4 linked regions of the Homo sapiens genome follow. The protein of the gene in region 3 purifies or fractionates together with the protein of the main gene of each other region. This does not show direct contact. Each region holds a gene or a part of one and is shown on either strand. Other genes may lie near its edges.

The links.
Region 1: the proteins of PCDHA3 (region 3) and CYP51A1 purify together in Homo sapiens (co-immunoprecipitation; 3 studies listed by BioGRID and IntAct, with this or other methods). This does not show direct contact.
Region 2: the proteins of PCDHA3 (region 3) and ATP13A2 purify together in Homo sapiens (affinity purification with mass spectrometry; 2 studies listed by BioGRID and IntAct, with this or other methods). This does not show direct contact.
Region 4: the proteins of PCDHA3 (region 3) and KCNT2 purify together in Homo sapiens (affinity purification with mass spectrometry; 2 studies listed by BioGRID and IntAct, with this or other methods). This does not show direct contact.

The regions. Positions count from the first base shown.
Region 1 is NC_000007.14:92,117,455-92,124,479, forward strand, and holds part of CYP51A1 (lanosterol 14-alpha demethylase), read right to left. Parts: intron 6,400-7,025; coding exon 6,280-6,399; intron 5,862-6,279; coding exon 5,666-5,861; intron 1,162-5,665; coding exon 1,066-1,161; intron 1-1,065. UniProt on the Homo sapiens protein: Sterol 14alpha-demethylase that plays a critical role in the cholesterol biosynthesis pathway, being cholesterol the major sterol component in mammalian membranes as well as a precursor for bile acid and steroid hormone synthesis.
Region 2 is NC_000001.11:17,001,906-17,008,930, reverse strand, and holds part of ATP13A2 (polyamine-transporting ATPase 13A2), read left to right. Parts: intron 1-3,152; coding exon 3,153-3,247; intron 3,248-3,374; coding exon 3,375-3,557; intron 3,558-3,858; coding exon 3,859-3,917; intron 3,918-4,109; coding exon 4,110-4,239; intron 4,240-4,519; coding exon 4,520-4,599; intron 4,600-6,557; coding exon 6,558-6,635; intron 6,636-6,827; coding exon 6,828-6,897; intron 6,898-7,025. UniProt on the Homo sapiens protein: ATPase which acts as a lysosomal polyamine exporter with high affinity for spermine. Also stimulates cellular uptake of polyamines and protects against polyamine toxicity.
Region 3 is NC_000005.10:140,796,206-140,804,074, reverse strand, and holds the start of PCDHA3 (protocadherin alpha-3 isoform 1 precursor), read right to left. Parts: upstream 3,019-7,869; 5' UTR 2,878-3,018; coding exon 484-2,877; coding exon of another isoform or gene 403-483; exon of another isoform or gene 1-402. Other genes in the region: PCDHA2 (protocadherin alpha-2 isoform 1 precursor), read right to left, coding at 6,723-7,869. UniProt on the Homo sapiens protein: Potential calcium-dependent cell-adhesion protein. May be involved in the establishment and maintenance of specific neuronal connections in the brain.
Region 4 is NC_000001.11:196,227,416-196,234,440, reverse strand, and holds part of KCNT2 (potassium channel subfamily T member 2), read left to right. Parts: intron 1-6,105; coding exon 6,106-6,217; 3' UTR 6,218-7,025. UniProt on the Homo sapiens protein: Sodium-activated and chloride-activated potassium channel. Produces rapidly activating outward rectifier K(+) currents. Contributes to regulate neuronal excitability.

The sequences.
Region 1 (7,025 bases), on a different chromosome or scaffold from region 3:
TTAACTCAAGATGATTTCCAGTGAGCCAGCGTTGGGTTGGAAGTACACAGTACACAAATCAAACCCATAATGCCTTGGAGGTAGGGTTGGAATTTCAGAGAGGCTTTCACTATCAATTTGTACACTTCATATTAACAATTTTTTACAACAAAATGTTATTTTTAAAACCAAGAAAAATATGTACTTTGATTTTTAAAACCCCAATTGTTAAAGAAAAATGCAGAACATGATTAGCATTAAAGATTAGCATGTAGGCCGGGCGCGGGATTACACCTGTAATCCCAGCACTTTGGGAGGCCAAGGCGGGTGGATCACCTGAGGTCGGGAGTTCGAGATCAGCCTGACCAACATGGATAAACCCCATCTCTACTAAAATACAAAAAATTAGCCAGGCATGGTGGCATGCCCCTGTAATCCCAGCTACTTGGGAGGCTGAGGCAGAAGAATTGCTTGAACCCGGGAGGCGGAGGTTGCAGTGAGCTGAGATCGCACCACTGCACTCCAGCCTGGGCAACAAGAGTGAAATGCCGTCTCAAAAAAAAAAAAAACAGATTAGCACGTATACTATCTACAATTAGGTAAAAATATGTTTTTAGAGTATATAAAACTGAAGATTAGGTAGAAGTGATTATTCTACTTTTTTAATTTAAAAAAATCTCTTTTATGCTACTCTACTTCCTCTTTTCTTTTTCTTTCTTTTTTATTTTTATTTTTTTTGAGACAGGGTCTTGCTCTGTTGCCCAGGCAGCAATGCAGTGGCGTGATCATGGATTACTGCAGTTTCAACCTCCCAGGCTCAAGCAATCTACCCACATCAGCCTCCCAAGCAGCTGGGACCACAGGCATGTGCCATTATGGCCAGCTAATTTTTAGAAAAAATTTTGTAGAGATGAGGTCAGTCTCACTATGTTGCCCAGGCTGGTCTCAAATTCTGGCCTCAAGTGATCCTCCCACCTCAGCCTCCCAAAGTGTTGAGATTACAGGTGTGAACCACCACACCCACCTATTTCTTCTTTTTGATAAAAACTGGGGGTATAGAGGGGAAGATGTAGCCAAGATACTCACCTGAGGAGTTCTGGCCATTCTCATCATGATCATTATAGGAGGTCTAAGTCTTAATGTTTCTTTTATACAGCGATCAAGTAAATTTAGATCCTTGAGCTAAAATGAGAAAGCATTTCCTGATTGTTATAAATAACATACTTCAACAGTACAAAAAATTAGTTTAACTTCTTAGTTAGTACAAGACAGCTTGCATTCCAGCTAAAAGTACAGAGGTAACTGGTTCAGGGTGGCTGGGGTTATCATGCTCTACCACTGTCCATGGTGAAAAAGGAGGGCAAGGTAACAGAAGCGATTGCCCTGAAGAATGAAGTAAGAACCTACAAAAATTCACTCCTCCAAAAAATGAAAACAGTAGCAACAATCTTAATGTCAACTTTTTCAAAATTCTGGAAGATTAACCAAAGGCTTGCAACAATCTAAGGAGAGTTAATTCAAGAAAAAGAAATCTGAATCTTGGTAAGAAGAGTAAGCTTTGTGGTAGTGTAAGTTGTATTTCTTTCATCCTCCTCTCCCCAAATCCATGGTAGCCCCGGAAACCAACAGCATGACAACTATAGCAGCTGTGAAAGCCAGAAGCCTAACAACTATTAGAGGAGCCAGAGCAAATTTTCCAAAAATATTTAGCAAAAATTGTTTAACACTGAAGGCGCCTGAGATGGTGATATCAGTTGGTGCTAAGAGACAGAACAAGAAGTTTAAAAGGGAAAACTGGGGAGTAAGATGTCCACAGGAGACTTTGAAAAGTTCCAACATAAGAGAATCTTGAAGGCCACACATATGTATAAGACCATGCATATGCCCAGGTAAGATCTAAGAGGCTGTAATCTTTTACCTCTGGCTGACCTGTACACACAGGTAGTGAAGGCAGACTTGTAACTGCCTGTTGGAGTGTTAATAACATCCCCTAACACACACATACAGAGCCTTTCAGCAAAAGCTAGGAGACTGGCTGTTCAAAGCACTTCAGTAAATCTCTGTCCAAATATTAGATGCCCACTAAAGTAAGCAAGCAGAGATTTCAGTGACCTCACTGAACAAGGAATGACATAATTAATCCAGGAAACGCAGTAAACAAACAGCAGCAGCAACAACAACAACAACAAAGAGCCAGCAACAATAAACCCAGGGAGGAGGGCATCTGATTTCCACAGTTGCCACATTATTTTAAATGTACAGTTTTCAACAAAAAAATTACAAAAAACACACCAAAACAGGAAAGTATGGCCAGTACATAGAAAAAGCAAGCAGTTTAATAGAAACTATCCATGAAGAAGCCCAGACATTGGACTTACTAGATAATGAATTTAAATCAGCTATTATAAACAGGTTCAAAGAACTATAGCAAAATATGCCTAGATATCTCTAGTAAAATGGAGAATATCAATATATTATTTTTTTAGAGAACCAAATAGAAATTCAAGAACTGAGAAGTATGAGAACTGAAATGAAAAATTCACCCGAGGGGATCAACAGCAGATTTGGACTGGCAGAAGAAAGAATAACATCAAAAAAATAACAATAATAAAATACTTAAGAATACATTTAACAAGAGAAGTTTAAACATTGTGCACCAAAAACTATAAAACATTGTTGAAAGAAATTAAAGAACTAAAATAAGAGAAAGACATCTCATGTTCACAGATTTAAAGACTAAAATTGTGCTCCCAAATTAATATGGCGATACAATGCAATCATTGTCAAAAATCTCAGCTAGCTTCTTTGCAGAAACTGACACACTGACCCCAAAATTCATATGGAAACTAAAGGGACTAGGAGTAGATAAACAGCCTTGAAAAGGACAAAGTCAGAGGACTCACACTCCCGAATTCAAAACTTATTACAAAACTACGTAATGGCATCAGACTAAACATATCAATGGAATAGAACTGAGTCCAGAAATAAAGCCTTAAATTTATGGTCAAGAGGCTTTTTAAAATGTATTTATTTTTTCAGAGACAGGGTTTCGCTATGTTGCCCAGGCTGGACCCCAAGTCCTGAGCTCAAGCGACCTTCCCATCTCAGCTTCTCAGTAGCTGAGAATACAGGCACGTGCCACTGCGCCTGGCTATAATAGATTTTTTTACAAAGACAATTCAACGTGGAAAAAATAGTCTTTTCAACAAACAGTGTGGGACAACTGGATAAACACATGCAAAAGAATGATGACCTCACATCATATACATAAATTAATTCATAATGGATCAAAGACCTAAATGTAAGATATGAAACTACAAAACACTAAGAAGAATACACAGAAATAAATCTTCATACACTTTGATTAGGCATTAGTTTCTCTGACACCAAAAGCACATTAAAAAAAAATAGATGAACTCTTACAACTCAATAATAAAAAGACAACTCATTTTAAATATGGGAACAGGATGTGAGCAGACATTTCTCCAAAGAAGTATACCAAAGCCAAAGAACACATCATAAGACACTCAACATCACTAGTCACCAGGGAAATGCAAAATCAAAACAAAATACCAACTGGGCATGGTGGCTCACACCTGTAATCCCAGCACTTTGGGAGGCCAAGGCGGGCAGATGACTTGAGGTCAGGAGTTCAAGACCAGCCTGGCCAATATGGTACAACCTTGTCTCTACCAAAAATACAAAAATTAGCCAGGCGTGGTGGTGTGTACCCAGCTACTTGGGAGGCTGAGGAAGGAGAATAGCTTGAACCTGGGAAGCCGAGGTTGCAGTAAGCCAAGGTCGCGCCATTGCACTAGAGCCTGGGCATCACACCAAGACTCTGTCTCAAAAAAAAAAAAAAAAGTATCACTTCACACCTATTATAATAAAAAAATCAAGTAACAAGTTTGGTGAGGGGGTGAAGTCAGGACCAACATATACTGTTTAGTGAGATTTGAAAGTGGTGCAGCCACTTTTTAAAACAGTCTGGCAGTTCTTCAAAGTTACCTTATAACCCAGCAATTCTACTCCTAGGTATGACCCCCCAAAATTGAAAACACATGTCCACATAAAATCAGTACACAAACGTTTAGAGCGGCATTATTCATAATAGTTTAAAAGGTGGAAACAACTCAAATGTCCATCAACTGATGAACAAATAAACAAAATGTGGTCTATCCATATAATGGAATATTATTGGTAATAACAAAGACTGAAGTACTGATACATGCTACAACATGGAAGAACCCTGATAACATGCTAAGTGAAACAAGGTAGTCACAAAAGACTACAAATTGTATGATCCCATTTACATGAAATATCCAGAATAGGCAAACTCACAGAGGCAAAAGGAGATTAATGGTTGCCAGGGGCAGCAGTCAGGGAGAATGAAGCATGACTGCTAATGGGTACCAGCTCTCTTTTGGGAGTGATGTAAATGTTCTAAAATTAAATTATGATGATGGTTTCCCAACTCTTAATATGCTAAAAACCACAAAGTGTACATTTTAAATGGATGGATTTATGCTATGTAAATATATCAGTTAAGCTGTTATTTTAAGTTACTAAAAACAAGAATGAGTGTTGAGACATCACTACTGAGCTTACAGAAATAAAAAGGATTATGAGAATACTATGAACAATTGTATGCCAACAAATTAGGTAACCTAGATGAAATGGACAAATTCCTAGAGAGATATAAACTACTGAAACTGACATAAGAAGAAATGGAATATCTGAATAAACCTGTAACAAATAAATTGAATTAGTAAGTAAAGTCTTCTCAGAAAGAAAAGCACAGATCTAGATGATTTCACTGCTGAATTTTTGCAAATATGTAAAAAAGGATTAACACCAATCATCCACAAACTCTTCCAAAAATTAGAAGAAAAAAAGAATACTTCCAAATACATTCTATGAGATGAGTATGATCCTGATATCAAAACCAGTCAAAGACATCACAGTGAAACTAGAGATCAATATCCTTTATGAATATAGATGCAAAAATCCTCAACAAAACACCAGCAAGTTTATATGTAGTAACATATAGAAAGAACTATGCACCATGACAAAGTAGGATTTATCCCAGGAATACAATTAACATCTGAAAATCAGTGTAATGTGCCATATTAATATAGGACCAAAAGCACAAAAGATAACAGGAAGATGACATCACCAAGGTTTGCTTCCAAGATGGAATGTCAGGTTGTGCAGTGAGTTGTCCTCTCTTCCTTTCCACCCAGCAAGTTGCATGTAGTATTTGTAAATGTCTTGTCCTCATTACTACTACTACTACTACTTTTAGAAGTCTCTGCTCATGCCCAGGCCACTCTGGACATACAGAATTCTAAGTAATTCAGAGGCTTCTACACTTCATAAGACACACAACATGCACATAATATCCTCTATGTACAGAAGCCAGACTTTGAAGCAGAGGAAGTAAGTACCAAAGAAACATCCCCAAGGATCTCTAAGCCATCAACCCAAAACATATCTGATAAAGCTTAATGGCAAGAAGCAATAACATTAAGATATTTTAGGTAAGGTTATAGGGAATTTGCTAAAAATAGAGAAGCTGATCAATTTAAGCTATAGTATATAGAAAATCTCAAATTGTCCCTTTTAAAAATTAGCCACAGATCCTCAAAGTCATAAGGCAGCAATGAAACTGAAAAATCCAACAAACCTGGTCATAAGTTAAAGGAGGCAGATTCTCTCCACAGACTGTTTTCTGTTCTAAATAACATTTTTTTTGAAGTGTTTTGTCTCTGGCCAAAAAGAAGCCCATCCAAGCACTAGTAGTTGAGGATGTATGCTGCCCTGCCAAGAGTAATCCAATAAGCATCCCTGCTACTTCATCATCAGTCAAAGGACGCCCATCCCTAAGGAATGAACCAAAGACACAAATTTAACATTTTGGCAGATACATTTCATGCCTCAACCTTTAAATAAAGTGTCATAATGAATACATTTTTCAGGTATAGTGGTCTCTTATATTTGACTATCACAAGTCAAGAGTTTTTTTTCTCTTAGGGAAGAGACAGACCAGCACAAAACGATTTTGATTACAAAAGACTCCATTACAGTTCATTAGCAAACTTTTACCATACCCAGTCACTGGGATTACAGTAAGACACAGGATGCCAATAGTTTATGTCTCAACAATTTAAAGAGTCCAAAGATCACAGCTACCAACTTATTTTGCCAGCATCACTGTTTTTTAACTGGAAATACTATTTAACTGTGTTTTAATGTGTAATTTCCTGCTTCAGCTTAATATGTTATCTGAATAGCTCTTACTTGTATGTAGCATCTAGTAAAGTTTGGAGAATGTCATCAATTTTTTCTTGAGACTGTCTGCGTTTCTGGATTGCCTTATAGAAAATATCCTTGATTTCCCGATGAGCTCTGTCCCTGCGTCTGTAATTAAAAGATAAAGATGATTTTCTTAAATAAAGAAATAACCTTCTAGGATCAAATTCATTTTGAGAACCAGGACCGAGCATAAAGCATCTTATTTAACCAACTTTAATGACTCTAAAATAATTGACAAAAAAATCAGAACCAGGAACATACTGGAAGTCATGAAAATCTTACATTGTTAAAAATGTCCATAGTCCCTAAGGGCAAGAACTGTGCTTTATTTAACATATATATCCCAGATTCTTAACACATTGCCTGTGTTCAAACTAAAGGCCTAAAACAAGCAAGAAATTCCTTTAGAAGTATTTTCCAGTTCAACAGAAAGTAGGATACTCTTTTAAATTAACATAAAATTCCAATTTTAATACCAAATCAAGTCTTAAAGCAGAAGAGTCACTCTGGTTCTTCCATGGAATCTGGTTCTACTTTTCACTTTCTAATACAATAGTTTTTTGTAGGGGGTGAAAATACTAGCAGATTCAGAAAACAAGCTTCAACTCCTAAACTTTACCTTTAAATAGTATGTTCACTATGTAGCAGGTACCATGTTAAGTGTTTTACATGAATTACTCACTTTTATCTTCCTGTGAGGTACATACTATTAACCTCAAGTTATAGCTAGC
Region 2 (7,025 bases), on a different chromosome or scaffold from region 3:
GTGCAGTGGCGTGATCTCAGCTCACTGCAAGCTCCACCTTCTGGGTTCACACCATTCTCCCGCCTCAGCCTCCCAAGTAGCTGGGACTACAGGCGCCTGCCACCACGCCCGGCTAATTTGGTTTTTATATTTTTAGTAGAGACAGGGTTTCACCGTGTTAGCCAGGATGGTCTCAGCTAGTCTCCACCTCCTGACCTCGTGATCCGCCCCCCTTGGGCTCCCAAAGGGCTGGGATTACAGGCGTGAGCCACTGCGCACGGCCGGCCTGAGGGTTTTAAGGTACAAGGAGCAACTGTTGAATGGGCCTAGGGAGCCGTGGGACAGCCAGGGCTTCAGACAGGGTGATGTGAAAGGAGAAGAGAGCCTGGGAAATGGATAAGCAGAAGCCACGCCCCCCTGACCTGGGAGCCGGGTCCTGCCCACCTGTCCACGCAACCCCCCCAGGAACTTCAAATGCTTCTACCTCCCTGTGTGCTGGATGCTTCGGGACTATCATCCTAGAGATGAGAAATGGAAGCCCAGAGAGGCAAAGGCACTTGCTGTATGAAACACAGCATCAAAAAAGAAATTCTTAGGAACAAATGATGGGCAAAAAGACAAAACCCTGTCTCTACAAAAAAAATTAGCTGGGCATGGTGGCCTGTGCCTGTAGTCCCAGCTATTTGGAGGCTGAGGTGGGAGAATTGCTTGAGCCTGGGAGGTCAAGGCTGCAGTGAGCTATGATCGCAACACTGCACTCCAGCCTGGGTGACAGAGAGAGACTGTCTCAAAAAAAGACTTATACACGAAAACTGTAAGCTGGGCATGGTGGCTCACGCCTGTAATCCCAGCACTTTGGGAAGCCGAGGCTACAAGAGTGATAAGTAAATAAATGAATGAATGAATGAATGAAAGGACATCACAACCGAGGTTACCTGGCAGGGTTGATACGTTAGCCATGTACCCTGTGCACAGTGAGCCCTCTAGGAGTGTTGAAGCCAGAGTGCTTGGGGATGGGGCTGCTCAGAGGCTGGGGGTGCTGTGCCCACAGCAGCTGCCTGGGGCACTCTGGACTCTTTGGGTAGAAATTTTAGAAGGGCTCGCCGGGCGCTGTGGCTCACGCCTGTAATCCCAGCACTTTGGGAGGCCGAGGCGGGCGGATCACGAGGTCGGGAGATCGAGACCATCCTGGCTAACACGGTGAAACCCCATCTCTACTAAAAATACAAAAAATTAGCCGGGCGTGGTGGCGGGCGCCTGTAGTCCCAGCTACTTGGGAGGCTGAGGCAGGAGAATGGTGTGAACCCGGAAGGCAGAGCTTGCAGTGAGCCGAGATCGCGCCACTGCACTCCAGCCTGGGTGACAGAGCGAGACTCGCTCTCAAAAAAAAAAAAAAAAAAAGGAAAAATTTTAGAAGGGCTCAGATTGGGGGATGAAGGAGGGAGCCCAGAAAATCAGCAGCCTACCCCGCACCCGCCCAGCTTTTCCAGCTTAGTGAGCTTTTTCAGAGGCTCTTGTGAAACCACAGATGCCTAGCACCATCCCTACCCCGGCCTGAGGAGTTGATCCAGCCAGTCTGGGGAGGGCCCTGGCATCTGCATATGTAAAAGGTGCTCCAGGTGGTCTGGGACCGTAGATGAACCCTGACAGAGGCTGTCCAAGGGTGGGGCTGGTGAGCTCTACCCGCTCTGGAGCCCCAGAACATCCACTGGCTGCCTGCCCTGCTAAGGCCACAGCTCTACAGCACAGGAGGAAGGAGTGAAAAGAATGTCTGTGGCCGGGCGCAGTGGCTCAGCCTGTCAGCCCAGCACTCAGGGAGGCAAGGCGGGTGGATCACCTGAGGTCGGCAGTTTGAGACCACCCTGACCAGCATGGTGAAACCCCGTCTCTACTGAAAATACAAAACTTAGCTGGGCGCCTGTAATCCCAGCTACTCGGGAGGCTGAGGCAGGATAATCGCTTGAACCTGGGAGGCAGAGGTTGTAGTGAGCCGAGATCATGCCATTGTATTCCAGACTGGGCGACAGAGCAAGACTTCATCTCAAAAAAAAAAGAATATCTGCAATAGAACCACCTGATACCATTCCCCAAGTCTCAGTTTACCCATCTGTAAAGATAGGCCTGCAGGGCTGACCGTTTATTAGTCCAGACTTGACTTTGCATCTCCTCACTGCCAGACCTGGGCTGGGCACGGGCATGGAATGAAGATAAGCATCCCTGACCCCTGCCCTCAGGGTGGGGACTGGATGAGGATAGAAAAGTGAGACCCAGAGCTCCAAGGAAGCTAATGGCTGGATGCACGAGCACCATGGGGGCTTGGGGCACTGTCCAGGCCCCATTCTCCAATTCTGGGCCATACCCAGCAGAAAGACCGACACACGCAAGGAAACAAGACACTACTGGCCAAGCACGGTGGCTCATGCCTGTAATCCCAGCACTTTGGGAGGCCAAAGTGGGCAGATCACTTGAGGTCAGGAGTTCGAGACCAGCCTGGCCAACATGGTGAAACCCCATCTCTACTAAAAATACAAAAATTAGCTGGGCATGGTGGTGCATGCCTATAATCCCAGCTACTCGGGAGGCTGAGGCAGGAGAATCGCTTGAACCTGGGAGGCAAAGGTTGCAGTGAGCTGAGATCAAGTGACTGCACTCCAGCCTGGGTGACAGAGTGACACTCCGTCTCAAAAAAAAAAAAAAGATACGGTAAGTAAGAACCGACGGAAAGAAGAGCCAGATAAAGGACACAGGAAGACATGAGCTTTGGGCTCTGTCAGACCAGGTGCTTACTGTTTTGTGTTTTGTTTTGTTTAGTTTTTTGAGATGGAGTCTCACTCTGTTGCTCAGGCAGGGGTGCAGTGGTGTGATCTTGCCTCACTGCAACCTCTACCTCCCAGGTTCAAGTGATTCCCCTGCCTCAGCCTCCTGAGTAGCTGAGATTACAGGCACGCGCTGCCACGCCCGGCTAATTTTTTTTATTTTTAGTAGAGATGGGTTTCACCATGTTAGCCAGGTTGATCTCGAACTTCTAACCTCAGGTGATCCACCCGCCTCGGCCTCCCAAAGTGCTGGGATTACAGGCGTGAGCCACCGCGCCCAGGCTGATGTTTATTGTTTTTAAGGAAGCAAGAGGAGAAGGTGCCTCCCCAAATGACCTTTCTCTTTTCTGTCCACAGACAGCAGCCCTCTCGTGGGCAGCACGCCCACCGGTTATGGGACCCTGACGATAGGGACATCAATAGATCCCCTCAGCTCCTCAGTTTCATCCGTGGTAAGTGGGCAGAGTGGGGTGGGGAAAAGCTGCAGGGGGTGAATGCCCAGGCCCACCCAGACACCCCAACTTCCTACTCCAGCCCCGTTCCCACCCCGACCTGGGCCCTCTCTCGCTGCGTTCGCAGAGGCTCAGCGGCTACTGTGGCAGTCCATGGAGGGTCATCGGCTATCACGTCGTGGTCTGGATGATGGCTGGGATCCCTTTGCTGCTCTTCCGTTGGAAGCCCCTGTGGGGGGTGCGGCTGCGGCTCCGGCCCTGCAACCTGGCCCACGCCGAAACACTCGTTATCGAAATAAGAGACAAAGAGGTGAGAGTCAGGCTGAGCCTGGGGCTAGAGAAGCGCAGTGAGGGTCAGGGTCGGGGGTGGAGGATGCTTGGGTGCCAACCCGGCCACTGACTTTCCATGGGACATTAGGCAGGTCCCGCTCTTCTCTGGACCTCAGCTTTCCCATCTGAGCATTGGGCAGAAGGGACGGGTCGGGTGGTTTCTGGAGGGCTCTCCATAGCCTTGATTTCTGCCTTCTCCAGCAGGGGCCGCCTGGCTGTAGGACAGGGCCTGGGAGGGGAGGGGACTCTTCTGAGACTGAGTCCATACCTCTGTGTTCCAGGATAGTTCCTGGCAGCTCTTCACTGTCCAGGTGCAGACTGAGGCCATCGGCGAGGGCAGGTGAGGCAGCCCCATTGCCCCTTCCCAGAAGCCCCTGCTACCCTGGCCTCCCCAACTTCCCCAACCCTCGGCCCCCCCATAAAGGCTGACTCTGGCGCCTCCCATCCTAGGGAGGGAAGATGGCTCTGTGAGCACAGGGAGGTGCCAGGGCAGCTCCCAGAGCTCGAGAGTAACCCTCACCTGCTTCCCCAGCCTGGAGCCGTCCCCACAGTCCCAGGCAGAGGATGGCCGGAGCCAGGCGGCAGTTGGGGCGGTACCAGAGGGTGCCTGGAAGGATACGGCCCAGCTCCACAAGAGCGAGGAGGCGGTGAGTGTCGGACAGGTGGGTTCTGAAAAAGTCCTTGCCCCTCTCTCGGCCTCGGTTTCATGATCTGTGCAATGGGAGAGTCAGACTTCATGTTCTCCCACCACCTTTTAGTTCTGTTGTCCCAAACATCCAGGATGCTGTCTGAGCACGTTTACACTTTCAGGCCTCTCCCCACCTCTCTGTCTGGTGACACCAGTCCCTGCCCCCTACCCCCATCCCTCGGCTCCCAGCATAAGCACACTGCTTCTGGGGCCGGGGCCAGCTTCCAACCCATCCTCTCCTCTCTCCCACCCAGAAGCGGGTGCTGCGGTATTACCTCTTCCAGGGCCAGCGCTATATCTGGATCGAGACCCAGCAAGCCTTCTACCAGGTCAGGTAGGAGTCAGGGCCTGTGTGGCTCATGTCACCTCCCAGAGTGGCACTGGTTTGGGCACAGACGGTGGCATGGCATGGCCTGGGCTCCCCTCTCAGCTCTGATGCTTTTGCTGTCTGAAACCTTGGGCAGGTTACTGAGCCCCTCCAGGCCTGGGATCTCTGTCTATAAATAGGGCATGAAGATAACTTCTGCCTCCTAGGATTGTTTTGATGGTGAAATAGATAATAATTTATGTAGAGCTTGGCACCGAATGTGATCTGAGGTTGTGACACCACTGTGAATCAGACTATCAGCTCTGTACTCAGACTGTCTGCTTGGGGTTTAGTCACTGCTCTGCCACCTACAAAAGGCTTAAGAAACATGAGCTCAGGCTGGGTGCGGTGGCTCACCCCTGTAATCCCAGCACTTTGGGAAGCCAAGACAGGTGGATCACGAGGTCAGGAGTTCAAGATCAGCCTGGCCAAGATGCTGAAACCCCATCTCTACTAAAAACACAAAAATTAGCTGGGCGTGATGGCATGTGCCTGTAATCCCAGCTACTTGGGAGGCTGAGGCAGGAAAATCGCTTGAACCTGGGCGGCAGAGGTTGCAGTGAGCCAACATCGCGCCACTGCACTCTAGCCTGGATGACAGAGCATGACTCCATCTCAAAAAAAAAAAAAAAGAAAAAGAAACACAAGCTCACCACACACCTTAGTTTGTGTGTATGTGTGTGTGTGTGTGTGTGTGTGTGTGTGTGTGTGTGGTTTTTTTGGTTTGTTTGTTTGTTTTTTAAGATGGAGTTTCACTCTTGTTGCCCGGGCTGGAGTGCAATGCCGCATTCTCGGCTCACTGCACCTCCGCCTCCTGGGTTCAAGCGATTCTCCTGCCTCAGCCTCCCGAGTAGTTGGGATTACAGGTGCATGCCACCACACCCAGCTAATTTTTGCATGTTTTGTAGGGACGGGGTTTCACCATGTTGGCCAGGCTGTTCTCAAATACCTGACCTCAGGTGATCCACCCGCCTCAGCCTCCCAAAGTGCTAGAATTACAGGCATGAGCCACCGGGCCCTGCTCACACACTTTAGTTTGAATGCCGCAGAAGCAGACCCCCAGACAAGGGCTCAAGGGCAGGGAGTTTGTTTTGAAGCTGATCCCAGGCAGTGCTGGGGAAGGGATGGAAGCACGGAGGGAGGTTATGCTGGCTGCCACAGCTGTGGACACCCGGACTTCAGTCGCCTGGGGATCTCCTTGGGCCAGCGTAGACCACACACCTCTGGGCGACCTCACACAGGGAGTGAGGACAGTTACCATCAAATTCCCTGCCATTATCAGTCACGGGACACAAAGTCTTCCACGCTTTCCGGGCTCACAGGCAGGGGATTCACATGCAGCCAGAAGGCCTCAGGTAAAGACAGGTGTTTTCAGGGTCCAGCTGTCATGTGGAGGTGAGGCAGAGGGGAGATGGGGATGGCAGCAACAGCCTCTGCTGCATGATGGGGATAATAGCAAAAATCACCCGTGCATTCATCACTTAGCAAGTGGCAGGCACGTCCAAAGCAGTCCCCGAGGCTTGCCCCACTTAATCTACCCATGGCCCTATGTGGTAGGTGCTGTCACTGCCCCCATTTTGCAGATGAGAAAACTGAGGCACAGAGAGGTTAAGTGACTTGCCCAGGGTATCATCAGTGTAAATAGTGCCCTTATCACTAAATAACAGCTACTCTTTTCACTGTTCATATTATTAGCATCATCTCTCGCTGTTCTCCTTCTTCAGTGACTTGGTTTGGAACCCAGTGAGAGGAACAAAAGGGCAAAGCCAAGCCTTGGGTTCAAGGGGGCTTACTTGCTCCCAGGAGCTCAGTGTGGCAGAACGGGGATGGGGGGCCTAGAGCCCATAGTCTCCAGCCTGCACAGGGTGGGGGATGCAGACCTCAGGCCCCATGGCCCATGCGTGTCCCCTCGCACCCACCCCCAGCCTCCTGGACCATGGCCGCTCTTGTGACGACGTCCACCGCTCCCGCCATGGCCTCAGCCTCCAGGACCAAATGGTGAGGTCAGTGCTGCCCTGGACCGGGGTGCCCTGAGAACTGGGGCTCCTTGTGTTGCCCCCCAATGTGGTTGCCTTCCAGTCACCTGCCTTCTCTGGGCCTCAGTTCCCCCAGCTGAAAGTGGGGAGCTCCTTCACCCCGGGAGGGTCCAGCCACAGCTCCTCCTTCTGATGGCTTGGCCTCATCCCCTCTTCCAGGAAGGCCATTTACGGCCCCAACGTGATCAGCATACCGGTCAAGTCCTACCCCCAGCTGCTGGTGGACGAGGTAGGGCTGTCCCTGGGTCTTGCCCCAGCCCTGCCTGGCGTGCTGTGTGACCTTGGCCCAGGGCTTGCCTCCTCTGGGCCACTTTACGGTGGCAACCAGACCAGCTGTCCCCTTCTCCATAGTGGATC
Region 3 (7,869 bases):
AACTGAAGGTGGAAAAGCATAATCAATAGGGAGTTATAAGCATTAGGTGAACTCATAAAATGAGCAAGTAACATTTGTACTAACAGGTAGTAGGAAGTCCAAATGAAAAGTGGCAAAAGATATTGAAGAAGCATTGTATAGGGATAAGTATAAAACAAGTCGAAGTCAGATTCTCTAAATAATGCAATTCATCTAAGAAAAAATATTTGTCTTATACCCAGGCATTTAGCAATAAAATAATTCTACTACTGCACCTAATAACAAAACAAAATTACAAGTGTGGATATCATAACTTACTGCTGATTTGGTTCAAAAATTAGCAACAAAAATCTTACCGTTTTAACCACAAAACCACAAAACTGGAAAAGTCTAATTATGAATCACATAATTCATACTTAACTATTAATGTATTTCCAGAGGAGTGGAAACATTGAGGAATGAAAAACAAAGACATTTTGGAAAGAATAAATAAAAATTACTCACTTTGGCTGAGAGATCAACGTCCACATCCTGTTTCTCCTCTCTATCCCGGCTAATTGGACAAGGAGGAAGGCTAGGGCTAAAAGCCATGAGGTCGGTCTTGGGCAACCCCTCTCCAGAGCACACCCTCTGCTGCCTCTGCTGCGAGTATGACCAGCTCCCCACCGCGCTGGAGCACACCAGCGTGGGCTTGCCCGGCCCACAGTCGCCTTCGGTTGGCGGCGCGGAGCACCGCAGAGCAGTATATAGCAGCAGTGTGAGCACCAACAGACTGGACACCGCGCAGATGGCGACGATCAAGTACACGTTGACATCCACCAGTGCAGCTTCCGGGCCCGTGGCGCCAGCGGACGCCTGGGACGAGGCCTTGGGTGCCTGGCCACTCTCCACCAGCGACACCAGCACAGTGGCCGTGGCGGTCAATGAGGGTTCACCGTGGTCCTTCACCAGCACCAGTAGGCGATGGCGCGGGGCGTCCACCTCGTCCAGGGCACGGGTCGTGCTGATCTCTCCCGTGTACAGCCCCACGCGAAACGGGATGCGCGCACCGCCGGTCCCAGGCTGCAGCTCATACGAAAGCCACGCGTTGTAGCCTGAGTCTGCATCCACTGCGCGCACCTTCGCTACCACGTGGCCCGCACCCACTGACCGCGGCACCAGCTCGCTCACTGCGCCACCGATGCCACCCACCCGAGGCATCAGCAGTGCCGGCGCGTTGTCGTTCTCGTCCAGCACGAACACCTGCAGCGTCACGTTGCTGCCCAGAGGCGGCACGCCCGCATCGCGCGCACTCACCTGGAACTGCAGCAGCTCTAGCTCCTCGTGGTCCAGCGGCTGCAGCGCGTACACCTTGCCGCTCTCCGCGTGTACCGACACGTAGCTCGACAGCGCGCGCTCCCCCACCCGCCGTTCCACCAGCGAGTAGGACACCAGGGCGTTCTCCTGCGCGTCCGCGTCCCGCGCAGACACCGTGAAGATGTGGCAGCCCGGCGGGTTGTTCTCCTTCACGAACACCGTGTACTCGGACTGCGAGAATGCCGGCGCATTGTCGTTCACGTCGGCCACCTCCACGGACACGCTGGCCGTGGCCCACAGTGAAGGCGAGCCCCCGTCCCGAGCAGTCACCACCAGCTCATAGGCCGACACGCTCTCGCGGTCCAGAGGGCTGTCCAGCACCAATGAGTAGTAATTCTTGAAGGTGGACACCAGCTTGAAGGGGACGTGGGGCGTCAGCGAGCAGGTGACCTGTCCATTGACTCCTGAGTCGCGGTCGGACACGCTGATCAGAGCGATGACTGTGCTAAGTGGAGAGTCTTCTAATACAGGTAAAGATAGTGATTGAATAACTAACTCAGGTACATTATCATTGATGTCCACAATTTCGAGTAGAACTGTGCAGTGATCTGACATTGGGGGATTTCCTTTATCCGTGGCTTCTACCTGGATTTCATATGACTTACTTTCCTCGAAATCTATGTTACCCTTTACACTGATTTGTCCATTGACTGGATCTAAATGGAATTTTGACAGAATATCTGCTGACATGTCCGTATTGAAAGAATACGCGATATCCTTATTTACTCCTTCATCCAAATCGGTGGCGTTAACGGTCACCACTAGGGTACCATTTGGTGCATTTTCGAGTAATCTGACTTTATAGATCGTCCTCTCAAACGCTGGGGCGTTGTCGTTTACATCTAAAACAGTGATCTTTAGTTGAGTCGTGCCAGTGAGCTCTGGTTTCCCACCATCAATTGCTGTTATTAGTAAATAATGCTTAGGAGTGTCCTCTCGATTTAAATTTTTTTTCAACACGAGTCCAAGGGATTTAATTTCCTCATCATTTCTTTTAACGTCCAAGGTAAAATATTCAGTGGAATCAAGACTGTAAGTCAACAACGAATTTGTTCCGATATCTGCATCTGATGCGCCCTCTAGCGAAAACCGAGAGCCAGGCTGTCGGGATTCGGAAATAAACAGATTCTTTACAGCCATTGGAAAAACTGGCGCGTTGTCATTAATGTCCTTCACTTCCACCTCCACATGGAAAACCTGCAGCGGCCTGTCCACGATCACCTCCAGGTGGATGCTGCACTCCGCGCTCCGCCCGCACAGTTCCTCGCGGTCTATCCGAGAATTCACAAACAAAATGCCATTCTGCAGATTTACCTCCAGAAGGTCCCCGTGTCTTTTGGACGCCACCCGGAACAGGCGCGGCACCAGCTCCGCCAGCTCCAGCCCCAGGTCCTGCGCGATGCGGCCCACGAAGGTGCCATGCTTGGCCTCCTCAGAGACGGAGTAGTGGAGCTGGCCGCTCCCCACCTCCGAGGCTGCGAGGAGCAGAAGAGAAAGCAGCAGGCACTGGGCTCCAGGATCTTCTCGCCAGGAGAACAACATTGCAAGTATTTTCCAAATATTAGATTGCCTTTACATTGATCCAAAGTTTAAAAATAATTCGAGTTCCTTATCTTCATTTCTTAAACTCCTCGGTGTTAAATTTTAGAGAGGATGAAGCAAAGCAGTATCTGAATACGTAATGCACGCTGTTATTTCTTTTGTGGAGAAAGACCTTGTGGTGGACAGCGACATCATGTGGCTAAACGTGTAAGTATTAAATATGTAAACGTATCTTCTTTTCCTTGTATGTCGTTTGAACTTTCCCAAAATTTCTAGTTTCAATTGTAATATCCTTCGGTCACTCCTCAAAGTCCTTATATTTTATCTAAATATTTCCTTAGAACTTTTATACTAATTCACTATCAATTGTGCTAATTCATGACATACACTAAAATATTGTGATTCCTGTTTTAACAGTGGACATCTATTGGAAATATTTCCCATGTGACAGCCACTTTTCTATTTGTCTTAATGGAATTATCCCGTTAAATTATCACAATCCTCTGAAATAAGTTTTAATATTATTCGCTTTTTATAAACACATAGAGGTTAAGTAAAACGATATTATCTCTTGGTACGATGGGATTTCAATCTGATTCAAGACAACTTACCATTAACCTCTTTACCACCCAAGTTACATTTTATAGAAAAATCAGATCCTTTCAGATTTATGATCATCAAAACATTGAGATGTTGAAGTATTTAAAAGTGTGTGTGTGCTGTATATATTAAAACATACATATATCTACTTTTATGTTATTACAGCAACTGTTAATTTCTTAAAATATGTACATTTATGGTTTTTTAAATTTGTAGAATGTCTGTAATTCCCTCCCATGCCCCTTTTTCAAGAACTATAGCCTCATCAACTGTCTTGACTGTAACTTACATAAAGATTTCAGAAGTCGGTCCTTTACAGAGAAATTCAAACAGGAAATTTGTTTCCTATTGTGGGAATGTGATTTGTATATTTGTTACACTCACATCACATCAATTAAGAATATATTAGGTTTAATTTTTCCACACTCTTTATGTATTTGAATTTACCTGTATATACTAAAATGTTAACAATATAAAGTAATTACGTTTTTGATGATCTCCACTCCTGATGAATTTCTAGATTCCAGTTTTTTTAAAAGTTGTTACTTGAAAGAATTGATTATTTAACTAAACAGTGAAGGGAGAAAAGTAACCTAGGAACATAAGCCAGTATTTACTCAACATATTTAACACTAAGCAATAAAACATTCTAAAGATATCTGTGAATTCAATGAGAAGCATGAATTCTCGCCGCATTTGGAAGTGGGGCAAAGAAAATTTATGGAAAGAGGTCAAATTTAGAGAAATAAAATAATGTACAAATTTTTGCTTATACCCAGACCATTTAAAAATGAAATCAAACATGTGATTTAAATATTTAGGGGAAAAGTTTTCATTTCAGCTTTTGTTTCCTGTGTATTCATGAAATGGAAGCCAGGACTGCAACTTACTCAGATTTTATCATTCATATTTAGAATAGGATAAATTATCAATTGTTGTTTTCATGAATAAATAAATTAATATTTTGAATTAACTTTTTCAAGCAAGATAAATAAAAATGTAAGTTAATGATATTTGTTAATATCAAACTTACATAATTTCTAAATGATTATATTGTGCTATATTATGAAGAAGTAAGTAAACATTTAAGCATTATTTCTGAAAAGCATGGACCTAAGAAATAATTATAGCTATTAATATTCCAGTTACCACTTTGCTGAATTTTTAAAGATGGTAGCTAGTTTGAAAATAAGAGATAAATTTAAAATTTTTAAACTTCATGGACTTCATAGTAATGAGATGCCTTTGACAACTTATTGTAATACTGCACTTTTCAGTACCTTTAAGAGTTATACTAATTGCAAAATGGAATGTCACATGAGAATTTATAGCAGAGTAGACTCCATACTGATTATTAAGAGATAAAGGTAATATTAAAGGAACTATGAGTTTAGAAGATTGAGCCATTTTGTAGATAAAGTATCAGTGAATAATTTCTACTACCACCTAGATGTCACTTAGACAACCAAGAAAAAATGTAAATAAGAATGTTTTGAAAAAACTTATAGAGCAACAGATTGTGACTCCTGGAGATTTGGATATATGTGAATATAATTTTAGAAGCTTATCATTTACCTATGGTAGAAACATAGTGGTCAAGTATTACTTGGAAATGGATATTCTGACCTAACTATGAAATGGCTAAAGGTAAGATCACTAGTGGAAGTTATTTCTATGATTTATCAATATGCACATATATTTAGAATAAACAGCAAATAACTAAGAACTAAATAGTAGAGGACCGTTTAAGACAGTTATTTTATTGCAATACATCTGCCTTTGGTTGGAAAAGCTAAAAAAGTTCTTTCCAAGTGTAACATTTACTTGTCGAGTTCAGTGTTATAATTACCCAAAATAAATGTTTCAAGTGAAAATGTAGTCATCCAAGACCAGGCCTCATCTTTTGGAAAAATTCCAATTTCATTAGGAATATGGATGCTTCCAGGTAAAATTGAGTGAGCTCACATTAATGGAAAATGTATTCCCACGCATAGAATTAGATGCCAGAAAAAAGTAGTCAATCTCTGCAGTGGGAGGCCTGCACACATTGGCCTAATGATAATGATACTGAAAGGATGATTTATCAACCATTAACATAAAGACTGGGTAGTCTCCACTTAAATGAAGAAAAAGTCCCACCACCTGAAAAACCCCAGTGTGATTTTTAAATGTTAATATTTTCAAATTAAACAAAATTGAGAGGGTCTCTTTTCTCAATACTCTCTATTTTTGCCTGATAACTCAAAAATGTTATCAGTGTGAAATCTTTATACCAAATAATGGGTTATTTTACTTATAAAAAACATACTTAAGATTAGCAGTTATTCCTAAGTGCTGTCATTTTGTTGTAACAACCTGTGCTACATACTTTTGGAAATTCTGGTGTTAAAATATCCACTCAGGCTGCTTTCAAATACAAATAAAAAGACCAGGTGCAGTGGCTCACTCCTGTAATCCCAGCACTTTGGGAGGCCTAGGAGGGTGGATCACTTGAGGCCAGGAGTTTGAGACCAGCCTGGCCAACATTTAGTTGAGACCAACCCCGTCTCTACTAAAAATAAAAAATTTAAAAAAGAAAATAGCCGGGCGTGGTGGTGGGCGCCTGTAATCCCAGTTACTAAGGAGGCTGAGGCAAGACAATCACTTGAACCCGGGTGGCAGAGGTTATAGTGAGCTGAGATCACACCACTGCACTCCAGCCTAGGTGACAGAGCAAGACTGTCTCAACAAAAACAAACAAACAAAAAAAAAATGTAGCTTATTAACTATTGCATAGACAAGGGCATTGTTGATCCAAAGAACAATCTAAGAAATGTCCAGGATATAGGTTATTCCAAACACTATCCGACAGATTGGATAGACAGTGTCAGTTGAAAATACGTATTATATAATCAAATTCTTTAATTTCTTCCGATTGTGATTTTCAATTTTTAAGAGAGAAAATATTTATGGGAAATGTTTAATTTACAAATTTTGCTGAGGTGTTTTTCAGTGTTTCATGGTCTATTACTTATGACTTAATGATGGAAGTGCCAAAATGTAAAAATAAGAAAACAGTTATGTAGATTGTTTAAATAAATTGTTCAGTAAATGCAATAAATTGATCTCTAATTCATATTCAAAATCGCACGGTAGGATGATATAAAATAAATGAAGAACTATGAATCTAAATAACTAGTAGAAATCATATAGAATTTTTTAAAAAGAACAATTTTAGAATTGGCAAGAAAAAGTAAAAGACTCACCTTTCCTACGTATTCTGATTCTGAGAGCTGTTTCTCTTCTGCGGAGTCTGGACCTTGAGATAAGCTAGGGCTGAAGGCCATGAGGTCCGTCTTGGGGGGGTCCTCCCCAGAGCACACCCTCTGCCGCCTCTGCTGCGAGTAAGACCAGCTCCCCACGGCGCTGGAGCACACCAGCGTGGGCTTTCCTGGCGCGCGCGCACCCTCGGTGGGTGGCACCGAGCACCGCAGCGCAGTGTACAGCAGCACCGTGAGCACCAACAGGCTGGATACCGCGCAGATGGCGATGATCAGGTACACGTTGACATCCACCAGCGTAGCCTCTGAGCCCGCGGCGCCCACCCACGCCCGCGACGAGGCCTTGGGTGCCTGGCCACTTTCCACCAACGACACTAACACGGTGGCCGTGGCTGTCAACGCTGGTTCGCCGTGGTCCTTCACCAGCACGAGTAGGCGGTGTCGAGGGGAGTCAGCCTCGTCTAGGGCACGTGTCGTGCTGATCTCACCCGTGTATAGCCCCACGCGGAACGGGATGCGAGCGCTGCCAGTACCCAGCTGAAGCTCGTACGAAAGCCACGCGTTGTAGCCTGAGTCAGCGTCCACTGCGCGCACCTTCGCCACCACGTGCCCTGCACCCACCGACCACGGCACCAGCTCACTCACTGCGCCAGCAGCGGTGCCAGCCCTAGGCGCCAACAGTGCCGGCGCGTTGTCGTTCTCGTCCAGCACGAACACCTGCAGCGTCACGTTGCTGCCCAGAGGCGGCACGCCCGCATCCCGCGCGCTCACCTGGAACTGCAGCAGCTCCACTTCCTCGTGGTCCAGCGGCTGCAGCGCGTACACCTTGCCGCTCTCCGCGTGCACCGAAACGTAGCTCGACAACGCGCGCTCGCCCACCCGCCGCTCCACCAGCGAGTAGGACACCAGCGCGTTCTCCTGCGCGTCCGCATCCCACGCTGACACCGTGAAGATGTGGCAGCCCGGCGGGTTGTTCTCCTTCACGAATACTGTGTACTCAGGCTGTGCGAACGCCGGCGCGTTGTCGTTCACGTCGGCCACCTCGATGGACACGCTGGTGGTGGCCCACAGTGAAGGCGAGCCCCCGTCCCGTGCGGTCACCACCAGCTCATAGGCTGACACGCTCTCGCGG
Region 4 (7,025 bases), on a different chromosome or scaffold from region 3:
AGAAAATGAGACTTGATTATTGATTTGGGAATTGAAAAAGAAGTTTAACACAGCTTTAGGGTTTCAAACTGTGTGATTACAAAAATAAAAAAAAAATGTTGTTTCATCAAAACAAGTCAGAATGGGGAGACAATTTTCCAGGCAGGAAAGAGGGGCTGTTGGGTAGTAAAAAAAAAAGAGATGATATGTGGGTCCAGGTATATATGTATTTTTAATAAATGTTGACTTTCTAATTAATTAAGTTTATTGATATATAATAGTTGTGCATTTTATGAGGTACATGTGATATTTTGATACATGCATAAAATATGTAATGATCAATCAGGGTAATTGAGGTAGCCATTACCCCAAACATTTATAATTTCTTTGTGTTAGGAATATCCCAAATGTTCTTTTCCAGCTATTTTGAAATATACAATGAAGTCTTGTTAAGCATAGTTGCCCTACTGTGCTTTGAAGCACTGGAATTTATTTCTTCTGTGTAACTGTATTTTGGTTACTAATAAACCAGTTTCTCTCCATCTTCCCCTCCTCATCACCCTTCCCAGCCTCTGGTAACATTCTGCCTACTATCTCCATGAGATCAATTATTTTAGCTCACACATTTGAATGAAAACATGATATTTGTTTTTCTGTGGCTTATTTCTCTTAACACTGACTATGTTGTTTTTCTGTGGCTTATTTCATTTAACACTGACTATGTTGCTGCAAATGACAGAATTTCATCTTTTTTATGGATGAATGGTATTCTACTTTGCATATATACCACAAATTTTCTTCATCCATCCATTCAAATATGTTATTTAAAGTATAAAGAGGAAATGTCTAGAAAGCATTTAGATACACAGTATTGGAACTTTGAAGATAAGCTAGTTTTCTGTAGAAAAAATATTTTTTATCTTCCAGCTGAAAAAGGCTAAATAGGGAATGTTTTTTCCAAAAATATAAATACAGAAGAAACAGTAGAATAATTAGTGTTGTACTACTGACGAGTGTTTTGTTTTAGGGCAGAAACAGGAAGCATTTCAAAAACTTATTAGGAAAATAAAACAGCAGGAGTAAATCTGACCCCAAATAAGTGTGAAAAGATTCCTAAAATGCACCTAAGATAGAACTATCAAGTATAATATTGCTTTATTTTGCCATCTGATAATACTGGTTAGAATACAGGAGCATTGGGGAAACAGATGAATAACAATTTAAGCTAGTAGAATTCTTAAGTCACTGTCAAAAATTGTATCTGATGGTGATATTGAATTTATAAAGGACTTCAATTAGAGGAAAACATCTTATTTATGATGCACTTGGATTTTAATTACTCATCCTGGACCCTTCACATAGTATATTATGATAATAAAATAAAGCTGTTCTTTTTTCATGGCATCCACATTTATACATGTCTTTTTTCTTTTAAGTCCATAAGTATAGATAATTTTTATTAAATATCTAATCTACCCATATTAATTCCAGCCTTCTTATACCTTTTTTCAAATAAATATAATTGTGTTAATTATATAGAATTTAAAAAATTATGCTTACCTTATTTGTATTTTATAATAAATTATGTTTCTTAAGCTTAATACAATCATTTCCCATAATTATTTTTGACAGAATGTTCAAAGAAAATGTTGTCACCCTTTTGAGACTAAGAACATGTCATTTTGTCAAATATTTATGTTCTTGATTTCAAATGATGTTTAATCTTTTTACTTATGAATAAAATATGTATGTCACAATGTGGACAGGTAAAGTAGACATATTTTTAGAGAATTTTCTGTCTTTTAGATACTCTTATTTTTTATTAGTTTTAAGCTAAAACATCAACTTGACTGCTATTAAAAAAATAAAAAAGCTTTTCTTACACCATTGCAGTGATCTGTATTTGTGGCATTGAGATAATTAAATTTCAGTGGAACCAGAACAATGATAAATTATCATTTGAAAGATGCCTACCATGACATGTAATATATAAAAACACAGTTTAAGAAATTTGCTTTATTGGACTCATAGGTTTTGTAGTGACAATAATAGGAAAAGGAACTTTTGCTACTGCATCAATGAATGCAGAGAATAATGGATTATACTGTTATCTTTTATGTTTTTCTAAAAATTCACTTTCGGAAGTTTGTTTTAAATGAAGAAGCAACATTAATTTGATGCGAACAATAATAAATCACTAGATGATATGGTATTAAAAAGTGTAATGTGCACTATTAGTTTTCTTCATCAATCCACAATGCTATTGATATTTAAAGTAACTATAAAGCAGTGTGCATAGATGACAAAATCCAGTTAATAGGTCCAAGAACACTAGTCTCAACTTTTATTTGGTCAAAGAAAATAGACTCAGTGTTTTTGATTGCCTTTTCTCATTTTCATTAAGGAGTATATTTTGTGAATTTTTCCCTTCAGTCTTTAAGACAAAAGTGCAAACTTTATTAGCGTTCTCACTTTTTAATTAGTTTTCCTGTTCATTTTATATACTGCCTCTTAAAAATATTATAGAAGTATTAAATACTTCTTTCATTTGGACTTGGAACATGACTTTCTTAGAATGCTGTGTTGCATATATTTATTTTCTTCTCTCCTTTTCAAACCCTTAGTGGCTTCCTACTGCCTTTAAAACACAAATTGAAACTACTTATTCTGAAACTTAAGGTCATTCATTACCTGTTTCCTACCTTTGTTTTTGACTTTACCTACCATGATTTACTAGTTTTCTAAAGTCAAATCATTTCTAAGCACATCAGAAACATCCATCCTCTGTGGTCTCCATTGACAACATTTGGGATCACCTCCTGTTCCTTCCTCCTAAATCTTCTCTGAAGCCTGGAGAGGCAAGTTCAACCCAACCCCACAATAAAGCAGTTCCTAATTCTCTCTGTTGTTCTTTTTCACTTTGTATGATGTTTGGAATTTCTTTTTTTTTCTTCCATTATATCTGCTTCATAAATTTTACTTTAATCTTCTGCCGGACAGGAGTCATGTTTTGTGATTTTGTTTTAATTCTAAGGTGTTAGCACAGTTTCCTACAGGTGCTCAAGAAGCAGTCACTAAAGATACTCAGGCATACCTCAGAGATTTTGCAGGATTGGTTCCAGACTACCACAATAGAGTGAATATTGCAATCAAGCCAGTCACTTGAATTTTTTGGTTTCCCGGTGCATACAAAATTTATGTTTGCATTATACTTTAGTCTACTAAGTGTGCAAAAGCAAAGCATTATGTCTAAAAATTTACTTAATTAAAAAACAGTTTATTGCTAAAAAAAAAATGCTAGCAGTCATCTGAGCCTTCAGGGAGTCATAATCTTTTTTTGCCGGTAGAGAGTCTTGCCTCAATGTTGATGGCTGCTGACAGATTGGGGTAGTGGTTACTGAAGGTTGGAGGGGTGTGGCAATTTCTTAAAATCAGACAACAATGAAGTAGTATGCTGCATTGATTGACTCTTTCTTTCATGCAATATTTATCTGTAGCATGTAATACCCTTTGATAGCATTTTACCCGAAGTGGAACTTCTTTTGAAACTGGAGTCAATCCTTTCAAACCCTGCTGCTACTTTGTCAACTAAGTTTATGTAATAATATAAATTCTTTACAGTCATTTCAACAATGTTCATAGCATCTTCACCAGGAGTAGATTTCATCTCAAGAAACCAATTTATTTGATGATAAATAAGAAGCAACTCCTCATTCATTCAAATTTTGGTCAGAGATTGCAGCAGTTGAGTCACATCTTTGGGCTCCACTTCTAATTCTAGTTATCTTGCTATTTCTACCACAACTGCAGTTACTTCCTCCATTGAAGTCTTGATCCCCTCAAAGTCATCGATAAGGGTTGGAGTCAACTTCTTCCAAACTTCTGTTAATGTTGATATTTCTACCTCATCCCACGAATCATGAACATTGAAATTACTCTTTGATCCATGGGCTGCAGAATAGATGTTGTGTTAGCAAGAATGATACAATACTAATCTCATTGTACATCTCCATCAGAGCTCTTGGGTGACCAGGTGCCTTATCAAGGGGCAGTGATATTTTGAAGTCTTTTTTTTAAGTGTTAAGTCTCAACAATGGGCCTAACATTTTCAGTAAACTATGCTTTAAACAGATTTGCTGCCAGTCAGGCTTTGTTTTTCCATTTCTGGAGCATAGGCAGAGCAGATTTAGCAGAATTCTTAAGTGTCCTAGGATTTCCAGAATGGTAAATGAGTATTGGCTTCAACTGAAAGTCACCGAATGCATTAGCCCCTACCAAGAGAGTCAGCTTGTCACTGAAGCTTTGAAACTAGGCTTTGTCTTCTCCTCTCTAGCTACTTAAGTACTAGATGGCAACTTTTTCCAATAGAAGGCTGTCTTCCAAATTGAAAATCTGTTGTTTAATTTAGCCACCTTCATCAATAATCTTATTAATAGTTTGATTTTTTTGATAACTTGCTGTAGCTTCTGCATTAGCACTATCTACTTCATCTTGCACGTTTATGTTATGGAGGGGACTCATTTCCTTAAGCTTCATGAGCTAACCTCTGCTAGCTTCCTCTTCCATAGCTAACCTCTTCCATAGCTTCTTCACTTCCCTCACCTTTCAGAGAATTGAAAAGAGGTAGAGCATTGCTCTGGATTTGGCTTTGGATTAAGGGAATGTTGTAGCTGGTTTGATCTTTTTTCCAGACCACTCATACTTTTGCCATCTCAGCAATAAGGCTGTTTCCTTTTCTTATCAGTTGTGTATTCACTGGAGTAGCACTTTTAATTTCCTTAGGAACTTTTCCTTTGCATTCACAACTTGGCTAACTGGCACAAAAGACCTAACTTCCAACTTATGTAAGCTTTTGATGTTCCTTCCTCACTAAGCATAATCATTTCTAGCTTTTGATTTAAAGTGAGAGACATGATACTCTTCCTTTCACTTAAACAATTACAAGTCATTTTTGGGTTATTAACTAATCTAACTTTAATGTTTTTGTGTCTTGGGGAATACAGATGGTGGAGGAGAGGGAAAAGAGTCGAGGGAATAGCCAGTTGGTGGAGTGATCAGAACACACATATTTTATTGGTTAAAATTGCCTTCTTATATGGGTGCGGATAGTGGTATCCCAAAACAATTACAATAGGAACATCAAAAATTACTGATCACAGATCACTATAACAGATATAATTACAATGGAAAAAGTTCAAGTTACCAAATCTGACACAGAGACCCTAAGTGAGCACATGCTGGAAAAAATGTCTCCAACGGACTTGCTTGATTCAGGGTTGCCACAAACCTTCCATTTATAAATAATTCAATATTGGCAAAGTGCAATCAAGTCAAAAGCAATAAAAAAGGCATGCCTGTACATCATTTGACAGTCTAAAGTAAGACAACTCTCTGAAAACAAATTCTCACATTAATGAAATGTTTGAGTTTGGCAGATAAACATTTTTCTATTTACTAGCAGAATTAATTAAGAATTATTCTCTATACTTTAGTATTATCACTTACTATACCATAAGCTGAATTTTAGATAAATAATTTTCCTGCTAATTTAAACGTTATGCATTATATTCACTATAACATTTGTTAAACTGTTGATTTTATAGATTCATAAAATATTTAAATTGAAAAGACTATAGAAATTGCTTACATCAATCTCCTAATTTTTTAAGTGATAAAAATAAGACAAAGAACAGTTAAGTAATGGAAGAATGATGGCTAAAATGTAGGTCTCCTTCATAGAAAAATGGCCAAAGTAAGGGATAATAAGTCAACAGCATACTTAATCATAAAACTTTGATGAGACGAAGGTGCTGAAATTGATTATAATTGAAAAATAATGGTGACTGACAGTCAACATGCACAGGGAAAAAGATGAAGAAGAAAAATAATAGTGCTTGATTCATCAGCATTCATCATCATAATCTTCTCAGGTATGAAAATGATAATATTAACCATGCCAAATTGTAAAGGCCAACCAAACAGTGAGTTCTACCACCAATGTTGTATACAGACAGTTTAGATAATCTGAAAACTGAACAAATAAATTAGAAATATGAAGTGTCAGTGTGAATTAATGTTGCCTGTATTTACTATTGCAAAGTTATTTATTTTGTTTTCTTTTATTAGATACTTAATTCGACCAGATCCACTGGCCTACCTTCCAAACAGTGAGCCCAGTCGAAGAAACAGCATCTGCAATGTCACTGGTCAAGATTCTCGGGAGGAAACTCAACTTTGATAAAAATAAAATGAGAAACTTTTTTCCTACAAAGACCTTGCTTGAAACCACAAAAGTTTTGCTGGCACGAAAGAAACTAGATGGAAATATATGTAATTCTCTCATATTTAAAAACGTAATCTCTTCTCTTAGAAGTATAGATCATTTTGAAACTTAATGTACTACTTACTGGTACTCTCCCTATTAATATTTGAAGGACCTCAATGGAATAAATTTGAAAAGCTAAATTAAAATACAAAAATTTAAATCTGACATTTAATTGTTTTATAATAATCCAAACTCTATGAAAGCAATTTTAAAAATTATTAAGGTTTTATGAAGTTGACAAAATCTAACTATATTTGGTGCATCACAATGGACACAGAATGCTGCTGCTCCTCTTAAAAATTAAATGTGTCATATTATATTCTTTAAACTTACTGTTTTACAAAATTGAGCTCATCGTAAATGTCTAGTCTTCTCACATAGAGATTAACCAACAAACTTGTGTGGCTGACTTTTGTGTAAGAATCATAGTTTGCTTTAGAATACAAATCTTTAAGTCATTTTAACTTTTTTTTCTGCCTTACGATATAAAAATATTTATCTTAGAATTTGAGATGTTCATAGCATGTTTTATTACATTGAAGAAACTAAAACATAAATGAAAAGAAACACTAGGTTCCTGCACTTTTTGGTAACTTTATGTCTAGCAAATATTTTATGCCAAGAAAAGCATACTATAAAGCAAATATCTATTATTCTCCTAAACGAATGCCTAGCATAGAGAAAATACTTAATACACATTTGTTGACTTAAATTTAATTCA